Homo sapiens: one gene and its partners. The protein of the gene in region 1 interacts with the protein of each later gene in a pairwise test. Each region holds a gene or a part of one and is shown on either strand. Other genes may lie near its edges.

Region 1 (3,748 bases):
CCCACGGACAGCACACAGAGTGGGAGAGGAGCAGTTCCTCTGGGAAAAGAGGGTGCTGAATAGCAACAAATAGCAGCAATGTCCATGTGGCCTCGCAGCAGAAGGTGGTATTGAAACCAAGGGTTCCTACCTTAACACCCTAGAGGAATGACAACACTCATTTGGAAAAGGGCTTCTATGTGGTTATCTCAATGAATTCTTGCATCTATTCACTGAGGGAGGCAGGACAAGCATCGTCACCCCCATTTTCACATAAGGGAATGCTACGTTTTCTGTGTTACAGAAGCAGAAGCTATATGAGCCAGTGGTGATCCCTGTGGGCAAGCTGTTTCGACCAAATGAGAGACAAGTGGCTCAGCTGGCCAAGAAGGATTACCTAGGCAAGGCGACGGTAGGTGGGATTGCTCAGCTTCCCCTGAGTCTCCTGTGGCCCGGGCCATGTGGAGCAAGGTGGGAGGGACTCTTGAGAAGAGGGTAGCCTCCTTGTGGCTCTGTCCCTGGGATGGCAATGAGAGACTTGTTTATAGGACAGAGGTTTGGCTGAAAGATAGGCAACCATGTCTAGTTTATTTTCTCCAAGCTGCTCCCATTTCTCCCTTCCAGCTCGACCCTGGGTGAGAGCCACAGGGTTACTCACAGGATGCTGAGTCTTAGGGACTGAGCCAATGGAGGGAAAACACAGCCATGAGGAGCTCACTAAATGTGAAGAGAGGGCCAGGCAGGGTAGCTCATGCCTGTAATCCCAGTGCTTTGGAAGGCTGAAGTGGGAGGATCACTTGAGGCCAGGAGTTTGAGACCAGCCTAGCTAGTGGAGAGGCTGAGGTGAGAGGATCACTTGAGCCCAGGAGTTCAAGGCTACAGTGAGCTATGATTGCACCACTGTACTCTAGCTTGGGCAACAGATTGAGACTCTGTTTCTAAAAAATAAAAATAAATATGAAGAGAACATGTTAGGGAAAGAGATCAGCATGGGATCCTCTTGGATTAATGCTCCTTGTAGTTCACGTTTTAGTGGGCTGAGGAGTCTTTCCCCACTTCCACAGCCCTATGTTTAGACTATGTCTTAAATTGGACTTCTTCTAAATCCAGGTCTTGGCTGTGCATGGTGACTCATGCCTGTAATCCCAGCACTTTGGGAGGCTGAGGCAGGTGGATCACGAGGTCAGGAGTTCAAGACCAGGCTGGCCAACATGGTGAAACCCCATCTCTACTAAAAATACAAAATTAGCTGGGTGCTGCGGTGCATGCCTGTAATCCCAGCTACCTGGGAGGCTGAGGCAGGAGAATCGCTTGAATCCGGGTGGTGGAGGTTGCAGTGAGCTGAGATCATGCCATTGCACTCCAGCCTGGGCAACAAGAATGAAACTCCATCTCAAAATAGTAATAATAATAATAAATCCAAGTCTTAAATTCTTTCAGACATGGTCTGAAGTGAGTCAGCAGTGCCCTTCCAAAACCACATTTGACTTGACACATTCATAGGGCTAAAGTTGCCCAGTGGTCGGGTAGCTGGGTCTAGCATAGCAGCAGAGGTCAAGAAAGCCTGGGTGAGTGGAAGCCCTCCAAATATCTATCAACTGATGAATGAGTAATCAAAATGTGATATATCCATGCAACAGAATACTACGTAGCCATAAAAAGGAATGGAGTATGATTCATGATACAACATGGATGGACCTTGAAAACATTATGCTATGTGAAGGAAGCCAGATACGAAAGGCCACATGTTGTACAATTCCGTTTATAGGAAATATCTGGTGCAGCCTCTAAGCACTGAGAGAGCAGAGACCATGTCTGCTTGATCTCCACTGAGTCCTCACAGCCTGGCACAGTGCTAGACACATAACAGCTCTCAGCAAAAATGTTTTGATTATATGAATGAATGATGAAAATTATCTATAGTTTAAGCATATTTGTGAATAAAGCTAGCTTTACATCTGATTTTTAAAACTCAGAGAAGAGGGCTCAAGTCAGTCACAGAAAGCAAACCGGTTGTTGCCAGTTTAGGGGAAAGGGGAGTGTGGACACACTGCTTAATGGGTACAGCATTTTCTTCTGAGGTGATGAAAATATTTTGGAATTAGAGAGAGGCAGTAGTTGCACAGCATTGTGAATGTGATAAATGCCACTGAATCATTCACTTTAAAATGATTAATTTGGGCTGGGCGTGGTGGCTCATGCCTATAATCCCAGCACTTTGGGAGGCTGGATGGGTAGATCACCTGAGGTCAGAAGTTTGAGACCAGCCTGGCCAACATGGTGAAAACCTGTCTCTACTGAAAATACAAAAATTAGCCGGGCACAGTGGCGGGTGCCTGTAATATCAGCTACTCGGGAGGCTGAGGCAGGAGAATCACTTGAACCTGGAAGGCAGAGGTTGCAGTGAGCTGAGATCACGCCACTGCACTCCAGTCTGGGTAACAGAGCGTGACTCCGTCTCAAAAAAAAAAAAAAAAAAAAAGATAATTTGATGTTATACAAATTGCACCTCAATTAAAAACATTTCTTTTTTAAGAGAGAAGAAAGCAAGCCTGTGTTAGCAGGGGTGGGGTGAATGCTCGTTTCTTCAGTTGCTGAAATCCTAATCCAGAGGCTCAGGAATCTAATCCTTAGTTACTGTCCACGTCTGAAACCAGGCTCACGTAAGAACAGGTCTAGGGCATGAGCAAAGAGGGAGACCCAGAAGAATGGAAACAGTGCTGGCAGAGCCTCACACCCTCCTGTCCTTGATTTTAGGTCGTGGCATCTGTGGTGGATCAAGACAGTTTCTCTGGGTTTGCCCCTCTGCAACCACAGGTAAGGCAGTCCTGACCTTCTCCATGGACCTAGGTCTCGAGAGCTTTCTGTGAAGCATTCAATTCGAGAGACTATGTGTGCTGAGTTGCCTGATTGTAAGGGCTCCTTCAAGTGGCCCTCAGTGCAGCTGAGGGATCTGCCTGCCCTCTCTCAGTCCTGGTTTCCATGGCTGGTGAGGAAATAAGGCAGTGTCAGGCTTCACCCCAAGTCCTCTGAAGCTAACTCTCCTGCTTCCCCACAAATGCCGGTCTTCACATCTCTAAAGAGATCTGCTGATCCTCTCTCTGAAGCCTCAACTATTCTCTCAGGAAGCTGAAACACAAGCTATGGAAGGCTTATTAACAAAGCCTCTTCTTGAGTACAGGGGCAAGTGGGGAACCCTGTGGGGCCTGGGCCTGAGGTTTGGGCTCTCCTGGCTCTACCCATCTGCTCATGTGCAGGGGTTTCCTTCGGGAACACAGGCAGCGCACTGAGAGTGAACCCTTTTTCTGCCCAAGCTGGGCTTGGAGAGGTGAGCTCAGATGAACTGGATGATAGTGGATCTAGAAATGCACACAGAGCTTCCTTGTGAAGGAAAGAGGGGAAAACACATTAAGGAAAATACGAACTCTGTGGCAATGAACCTGTGATGGGCAAGAGTGTTGGTCAGCACTAGCAGAGGGCGGTTTTCTGAGCAGGGGCAGGTATGTTCCAGATCTAGATTCCTTGATCTCTTTCTTCACAATAAAGCTGATGAAAGCCTTGCTGAAGTCCCTTGAGCTTCAGTTCAGCCAGAGGCCATGAGGGGAATGCAGCCCAGGTAACTGGATTCCATGGTATTCAGTGTAGAACAGGGGAGGAGATTCTTGCCCAGTCAGTGGATCCTGTGTCAATTTTAAATACTCAGAAGTGGCCAGGCACAGTGGCTCACGCCTATAATCCCACCATTTTGGGAGGCTGAGGTGAGCAGATC
Region 2 (3,748 bases), on another chromosome or scaffold:
TCTGATTTGGGATGGGCCTGTGTGGACAGCTTCACAAAAAAAGGAGACAGTGTCCACCATTGGCTCCATAAAGGCTTCAGAATGTAAACAGAGCAGTTCTCTCTTGCCCCTGGAACTTTGTGTGTGTTGTTCCCTACTTGATTGTTCTTTAAAACTTTACTCTGGGATCACCTCCCAGGATCCTTCCTGGACATCCTCCCTCGACCAAGGCTGGTGAAACATCTGGCTCCCAGCGCTGTTGCTTCCCCCCTCAGATGCCTGGAGACTGCAGGGCAGGGCTAAGTCCTCTTCATTTCTGTGCCCAGCATGGAGCCTGGCATCTACTGGGTGCTTCTCATCTGTTTGTTGAATGAAGGAAGTATCCTCTGAACCTGATTTTGGGTAGATGGTGGAGTAAACTGAGCGGCAGTTTGCATACTGTGGGCAGGTGGCAAGGGCCCACAGGCCCACCACAGGATTGGTGACCAGCATTGAGGGGACACTGAGAAAAGTTCTTCAGGCTGTTTCTTCCCAGCCCCGCCACAGGCTATGCTGGCACCTGAGAGAGTTCTTATCCCACCCTGTGCGGAACTCCTGCTGAGCAGAGTGGCTTTGTATTCTTCCTTCCAACTCAGGCTGTTGGTGCACTGCTAGAGGGCTGCTGTCTCTGACACTGCAGTAGCCACAGTCGAGCTTGAGCTGGCTGGTCCAGCAGGGGCTGCTCCGCAGCCCTGGGGCTCAGACCAGAGCAATGCTGTGAGAGTCCTGGTACTGGCCAGTGCAGAGACTGCACATAGCAAGGGCTCAATGAAGTTTACCAAAAGAAAAGAAAGGGGGTTTTGTGGCCTCTGTCCTGTCTGTGTCTCTTGCAAAGGGCTGGCATACTATAGATGCCTAATGAGGGTATATGGACAGAATGAAGTGATTGAACATGTCCATGAACAGGGCAGAGCTCCTGGGAGAGGAGTAAGTATAATCCTGGGGCAGCCACTGGAGCCTGGTCTAGCTAGAGACAGATAGGAAGGGTTAGCTTGGGATTCTGGCTGGCTGGGTAGTGAGTTAGACTCTAATGGTGCCTGTGAAGGGGGGCTTCCTGGAGGAGGGGGTCTGCTGGGCAGCTGTGAAGGATGAATACCATTTGCCAGGGCCAGGCACTGGGGGTCAGAGGGACCAACTCGACAAGAACACTGCAGCAGGAAGACTTGGCCTGTATTCCCAAGAGCTTGGGTGGGTGTTTCCTGGCCTGGTGGGGAAAGGGCCACCCTCCCTGGACCAGCCCATGGGGTCATCCAGACCTGAGTTCGAATCCCAGTTCCACCTATGGCACTGGCTGAGAGACTCAGCATCAGGTGAAGCCCTGGCAGGAGTCCTGCTCTCCACTCATAACCTGGGGGCAGAGTGCCTCCCTGCAGCCACAGGTTATGGGGACAGTCTACCAAAGCTTGGAGGTATGAAAAATGGGTGAGGGAGGCCAGGCGCGGTGGCTCACACCTATAATCCCAGCACTTTGGGAGGTTGAGGCAGGCAGATCACCTGAGGTCAGGAGTTCAAGACCAGCCTGGCCAACATGGTGAAACCCCGTCTCTACTAAAAATACAAAAAAATTAGCCAGGTATGGTGGTATGTGCCTGTAATCCCAGCTATTCGGGAGGCTGAGGCACGAGAATCGCTTGAACCTGGGAAGTGAAGGTTACAGTGGACCGAGATGGTGCCACTGCACTCCAGCCTGGGGGACAGAGCAAGACTCTGTCTCAAAAAAAAAAAAAAAAAAGAAAAAAAAAGAAAATGGATGAGGGACCCACTGCTGAGAGTTTGGTGGGAAGGAGTCTCCCATCCTAGAGGCTGCCTGGCCTGGGTTTGGAGCCCTAGGGAACCCCCTCCCCTGCCCTCAGGCAGCTGTTCACAGCAAGTGGGGAGCCCAAGGCGTGCAGATAGTTGGTGCCAGCAGGAGTGACAGACTGCCCTGGGGACCTTAGGCCCAACCTCTGGGGGTCTAGGTTTGGAGATGTGGTAGGGCCCTGGGTGCCAGGTGGGCCAGTACCCACCCAGGCTGGCCTCCAGCCCCTACACTCTACCCCAGCCCTCTCCTTCACTGCTGGAGCTCATTAGCACTTGAATGGGGGGCGGGGCGGCTTGGGCCTCTGAGTCTCTTCTTCCCACCCCTCCCCCAGGCTTGTCGGGGCTTTGTCTGCAGGAGCAGGCAGGGATAGAGCTCCCACACTAAGGAGTGAACAGGGGTCCAAGCTATAGCTGACCCCCTCTGCCTGCATCCTGCCCAGTTCTGCTAGGCTCAGCCCCTGCCTCTCACGCCAGTGTCAGTGCAGCCAACATGAGGTCATACCTCTAGGGTAGGAGTGAGACTAGGTCCTTTAAGGGATACCTCTGAGCTGAGAGACTAGGTGAATCAGGGCAGCTGGAGCTCAGCTGGGGGCATCCCAGGCGGGTTGGGGAGAGGAACCCCAGACAGAGGGCAGAGCAGGTGTGAGGACAGAGAGAATGAGCCGCGCTGCTGTGGCAGGAGGTGGAAGTCAAACCAGTTGCGGGACACAGGCTTCCATGTCAGAAGCCCTGAGGCAGCATCACACCACCCACTATGTGTCAGAGCCTAGGCTGCTGGATGGGGCCTGGGGATGGTCCGGGACCCCTTTGGCCCTGGGCAGCTTGTCAGCGGTTGGCCCTGGGTGGCCTGAGAGGTAGGGTCACTGAGTGCCATCACTGATGTCCCAGGCCCTTGAACATCAGTTTGCCTGGCAAGTGGCAGCAGGTAGTGCTGAGGGTGGGGTGTGGTCAGGTCCCAGCAAGGTCCCTAGGCCTCCAGCACTGCAGGGGGTGGGGCAGTAGGTGCACTTGGGGCTACTTGGGCCACAGGCAGACACACAGGTCCTGTATACTCTGCCGTTGATCTTAGTTCTTGGTCCCTGGCTGTGACTCTCTCAGTCTGTCTCTAAAAGCCACCCATTCACTTGGCGGGAACAGGATGGAGGAAGCTTTGTCCACCCAAGCTCTTAGCCACTGAGGAACCAGGGACTCCCCCCACCCCACCCACAGCAGAGGAGGAGACTGTCACCCCAGAGCCTGAGTGCTGCCTCCCCTACATCCCGTTGTGCTGTGGGGGGAGGCAGGACCGGGCAGATGGGGGCAAGGTACAGGCCAGGGAGTAGTCTCATCTTCCCAGCATCTCAGGCCAGGAATCCCAGCCTAGGAGTTGAGCGAGGAGGGGAAGGGGTCAGCAGGTTCTGGCCAGGCCACTGCTGATACACCCTGCCTAAGAGTGCTCTGCAAGGTGCTTTGGGGAAGGCAAAGGATTGGGCCCTTTGATGGTGTCCCTGGTACCTGATGCTCTCAGGCAGCCCTTCCCTCAGCTACAGGTGCAGGGTGGAACCCCGTCTGCCCAGCCCCACCCAGCCCTTCTAGCTTGAAGCTCTCGTTCTTACTAAACCCCAACCCCACCCTCACCCTGATGTTACTTCTTGGGGCTGTGGCTGCTCTTGGTGGCTGGGGAGGAAGAATCTTTCTGGAATAACCAAACATTTGCTGGGCTGGTTCTTCTGTGCCGGCCTCTGTGCACATTTACAAGGCTTGAAAGGCAGCACCACACCAGTCTGAGCAAAGGCCTAAAGGTGGGGTCATCTCAGCCTTGTTGGGGAGAAGATATCCTTATGGCTTGGAGGAATCTGGGGGCTCCAAGGCTGCTGACAGCCTCAGGATATGCAAAGGAGGTGATGGCAGCACCTACTGTGTGTGCCCCCGGCGGGAGGAGGAGGTAATG
Region 3 (3,748 bases), about 13 Mb from region 1:
CAATATATGCCTGTCTTGCCAGGACAATAGAGTTGATTTATTTATTATACAATTGTTTGAATCCCTTCTATGAGTCTACTAACACTTGGAAGATCTTTCTGTGATGATGAGAGCTCAGCCAAGCCAGAATAAAAATATTCACTGCAAGTGTATTATGACTTGAAATAATACCACCACCTTACATTCATGTTTCATTTTTTAAAAGTATTTCATCTTTCGTCCTTGTATCTCTCAGAAGGTAACGCCTGTCCCATTTTCAGATGAGGAAACCGTGCCCAAAGGAATACATGCGACTTTTCCAGGGTATTTACTGAATCAGTACTGAATTAAAATTTTTTTCTATTGGATCACTGCTTACTCTTGGTTCAGTGGGAGGTATCTTTTTTTTTTTCCAAATCAGGAATGATCTGAGTATTTGCCAGCACCCAAATAATCCCAACAGACTACAATTTTTTTGAGTAACTGATACTATATTTAAAAGAAATTATGGCCTATTTTATTGTCATCAAACTTCTGAACAAACCTCTTAATAATTACTAAATGTCCTACAAAAATTATGTTGTATACATGGGAGTCAAATGGATGACATGGATGCGGAAAGCAGAAAGAGACTGGAAATCAACATCTCAATTCAGCCTTCCAAAAAGTAGAATCCACCACTTCTTTCCCCTTCATCATTTCAAAAGCCCATGGCAATGAACCCCAAACTGAGGCCTGAGGGCGGATGCACCAGACTTTATTCCCAGGCTCTCATGGGATTTATCTATTATGGGAAAATGGAGAGTCTGGGAAGAGGCGAAAAAAAAAACAAAAGACGCGGTTTACCTTGCCCTACCTCCCTCTCCCCCTGGAATAAGGTGATGTAGCGAAGAAACCATCTTTCAATGCTGTCAGGGCTCCGCCGAGTCAGGTCAAAGGACTTTGAAACCCCCCCAGAGCTCTCCTTTTTTCTCCACTTCACCTTTTCCCTCTCCTTTCGGTGACTTCTCTCCCTGCTTCCCATCCCGTCTGCTAAACTAGCGTTGCCCAGTGACATCTCACAGCCAACCCAAGAACATCTTCAGGGCCCTGGCAAGGAGGGTAGGACAGAGCCTTGGGGAGTCGTCACCTTTTGAGGTATCTGGCGTCCTCCCCTTGCATGGCGGCAGCGGCAGCGGCGTGGAGAGGATGGGGTATCTTGAGAGGCAGGCGCGGTTATTTCCGGGGACGGTGGCCAAAGTACCCTCACACCCAGAGGCGATGACAGTCCTGAGGCCTGCAAGGCGGGGCAGCAGCGGCGCTGTGGTTACCACGGTGAAGCCTCCAGCTCCTCCCACAGCTTCTGTGCCCCAAAACACTGGAGCGGCCCAGACCCGCCCAGAGTCGCCTAAGCCGGGCCGTCACGACGCATGCGCTTGCTCTGCACCTCTTGTATGCGCAGGCTCAGTCTGAGGCGGTGGCCTCAGAGTTTGACGCACCGGGGAGCCGAGCAGGGAAGTTTTGGTGCAGTTTTGAGCGTCCGTGTATAAGGAGTGGCTCCGTAGTCACCGCCCCCTTGAGGATGGGAATAGAAAGGGCTGTCAGGTCAGCTTGAAAGGAGAGAGGGGAATCCGATAACCTTTTAGTTAGCGAATGCTATACAGCAGTCCAGCTAATAAGGGAGGTTTCTATTTGGGGGCCTGAATGGCCCTGATTGCACTTACAAGCTCTAACTTATGGAGATAATCTGACCGTTGTACAAAATGGATATAACTTTGAAGGCGGCAAGTCTGTCACTTTGATGTCTTAAATCTAGAATACACCTCCCCCAACCAAAACAAACAAACAAACAAACAAACAACAGCAACAAAAAACAGTTCCTGAAATTCCAACTCCACCAATTATCCTGAACTCAAGGTATGTTTAGAATTGCTTCTTCTGAGGCAGGCAATTGTTAGCAGTGCAGGGCATAGGAAAGAAGGGTTCTTTTTTAACTGCATGTTCTCTGGTTTAAGATCTATTCCCATGGGTTCAGCTATTATGTCTATGCAAATGATATAGGTTCATTTATTTGGTAAATGTGAATTGAGGGCTGGCTGTGTGCCAAACACCAAACCAGGCTCTAGGGATGCAAAGAAAGCACCTCTACTCCCCCTGCTCACCTATAATCTTGTCACTTATTCACTGTCTTCTAGTCCTGTTTTCCCAGTTGCTTTGAGACGTGCACGTAGTTGCTCTGCTGCTTTTTTCAAATGTAGTACATTGATGCAATTATTGATTATCCGTTATGTGTAAAACACCATGTTAAGGCACTGCATGGTATATTAAATATAGAAATACAGTCCTTACCCAACAAAATATATTTTTATCTTCCCACCCATTCACACCAGCTACACTATTTCTGTAGATGTTATAGTCATTCTTTCATTCTGAAAGGGAAGAAAATTTGCAGCTAATTTTGACTCCTTCCTCTGTATCATGCCCTCTTACTAAAGTGTTACAAAATTCTATCTTTTCTTCCTTCAAGATATTCAGGTAGTCCAGTTTTTTTCTACATTCTTACTTCTACCAATAGTCTAATCACTTTATACCTAGAGTACTGCAATTCCTTCCTCATTGGACTTCCTATTTTTTGTTTTTCTAAATATTAATTCTGCAAACTAATGTAAAATTTTACAAATTATCATTTATAACACCTTTAATGGTAATATAGCAGGCTAGATTACTTTAAAATCTTCACAATACGTAAAATTGGAAGACCAAAATATACATTAAAATGCATAGATAATATAACAAGGATTTTTGGAATGTAAGTTAGCTCCTTGAGCTCAGAGAACTTATTTCGTTCACTTTTGCATTCAGCCCATAGTTGTCACTGAATAAAAATTTTGGTGTTGAAAAAATGCAAACCTGAGCTTGAAAAAACAATAGCAACAACAACAACAAAAAAACCTAAAGAAAATGCCCAGAGGCCAGAAAGAAAGAGAGAGCTGGAAACCAGAGCAATAAATAGATAGCTGAAACTGGGACTGAACTAGATAAACTGTCTGTCTGTGGCAGGAAAAGTACAAGATGAGCCTGGAACATTTTATGCTTGACAGTAAGGACATAGTCAGAGACTAAGAAGATAAGATTATGTAAAAAGGACACTGGTGAATTTGAGGCAATTTGGGAATCAAATGGAATTACTGGGATTGATTTAAGACATTAAATAAATAAAAAAAAGAAATCCATAATGATACTCAACAACATAGAAAAACAGGGAAAAAAGAACCCCACTTCCACTGGAGGCAACTACTGCATCAGATCTTTACTCTGAAAGCTGGTAATTAAAAGAAAGAAGGATTTAATCTAATGCTTTTGGAAATAAACCAGATTTCACCTCCTTTTAACAAGGAAAAGCTCTTCTTAACAGAAAATACCTGGTAGGAATGGAGAAAAATAATGATAGTTACTATTTTGCAAGCACCAATAAACAATGGATTCAAATAAGCCCTATTAATTTACTTTAAAATAATTTAAAGTGAGGCAAAGTTTTACCCCGCATATTTCTTTATAATTCTAAAGGAAAAGAAATGTTACTTTACAATGAGGAGATCTAGCTGTCAGCATTTTAAACAGACAAGCAAACAGCATCATTAGTGAGAGGTGAACCCAGCTGGACTTCTGGGTCGGGTGGGGACTTGGAGAACTTTTCTGTCTAGCTAGAGGGTTGTAAATGCACCAATCAGCACTCTGGGTCTAGCTAAAGGATTGTAAATGCACCAATCAGCACTCTGTACAAACGCAC

The links.
Region 2: the proteins of NCF2 (region 1) and GNAI2 interact in binary tests that used the Homo sapiens proteins (3 or more experiments, as listed by UniProt).
Region 3: the proteins of NCF2 (region 1) and KIFAP3 interact in binary tests that used the Homo sapiens proteins (3 or more experiments, as listed by UniProt).

The regions. Positions count from the first base shown.
Region 1 is NC_000001.11:183,569,828-183,573,575, reverse strand, and holds part of NCF2 (neutrophil cytosol factor 2), read left to right. Parts: intron 1-283; coding exon 284-391; intron 392-2,736; coding exon 2,737-2,796; intron 2,797-3,748. UniProt on the Homo sapiens protein: Subunit of the phagocyte NADPH oxidase complex that mediates the transfer of electrons from cytosolic NADPH to O2 to produce the superoxide anion (O2(-)).
Region 2 is NC_000003.12:50,239,187-50,242,934, forward strand, and holds part of GNAI2 (guanine nucleotide-binding protein G(i) subunit alpha-2), read left to right. Parts: intron 1-3,748. UniProt on the Homo sapiens protein: Guanine nucleotide-binding proteins (G proteins) are involved as modulators or transducers in various transmembrane signaling systems.
Region 3 is NC_000001.11:170,073,328-170,077,075, forward strand, and holds the start of KIFAP3 (kinesin-associated protein 3), read right to left. Parts: upstream 1,369-3,748; 5' UTR 1,141-1,368; coding exon 1,109-1,140; intron 1-1,108. UniProt on the Homo sapiens protein: Involved in tethering the chromosomes to the spindle pole and in chromosome movement. Binds to the tail domain of the KIF3A/KIF3B heterodimer to form a heterotrimeric KIF3 complex and may regulate the membrane binding of this complex.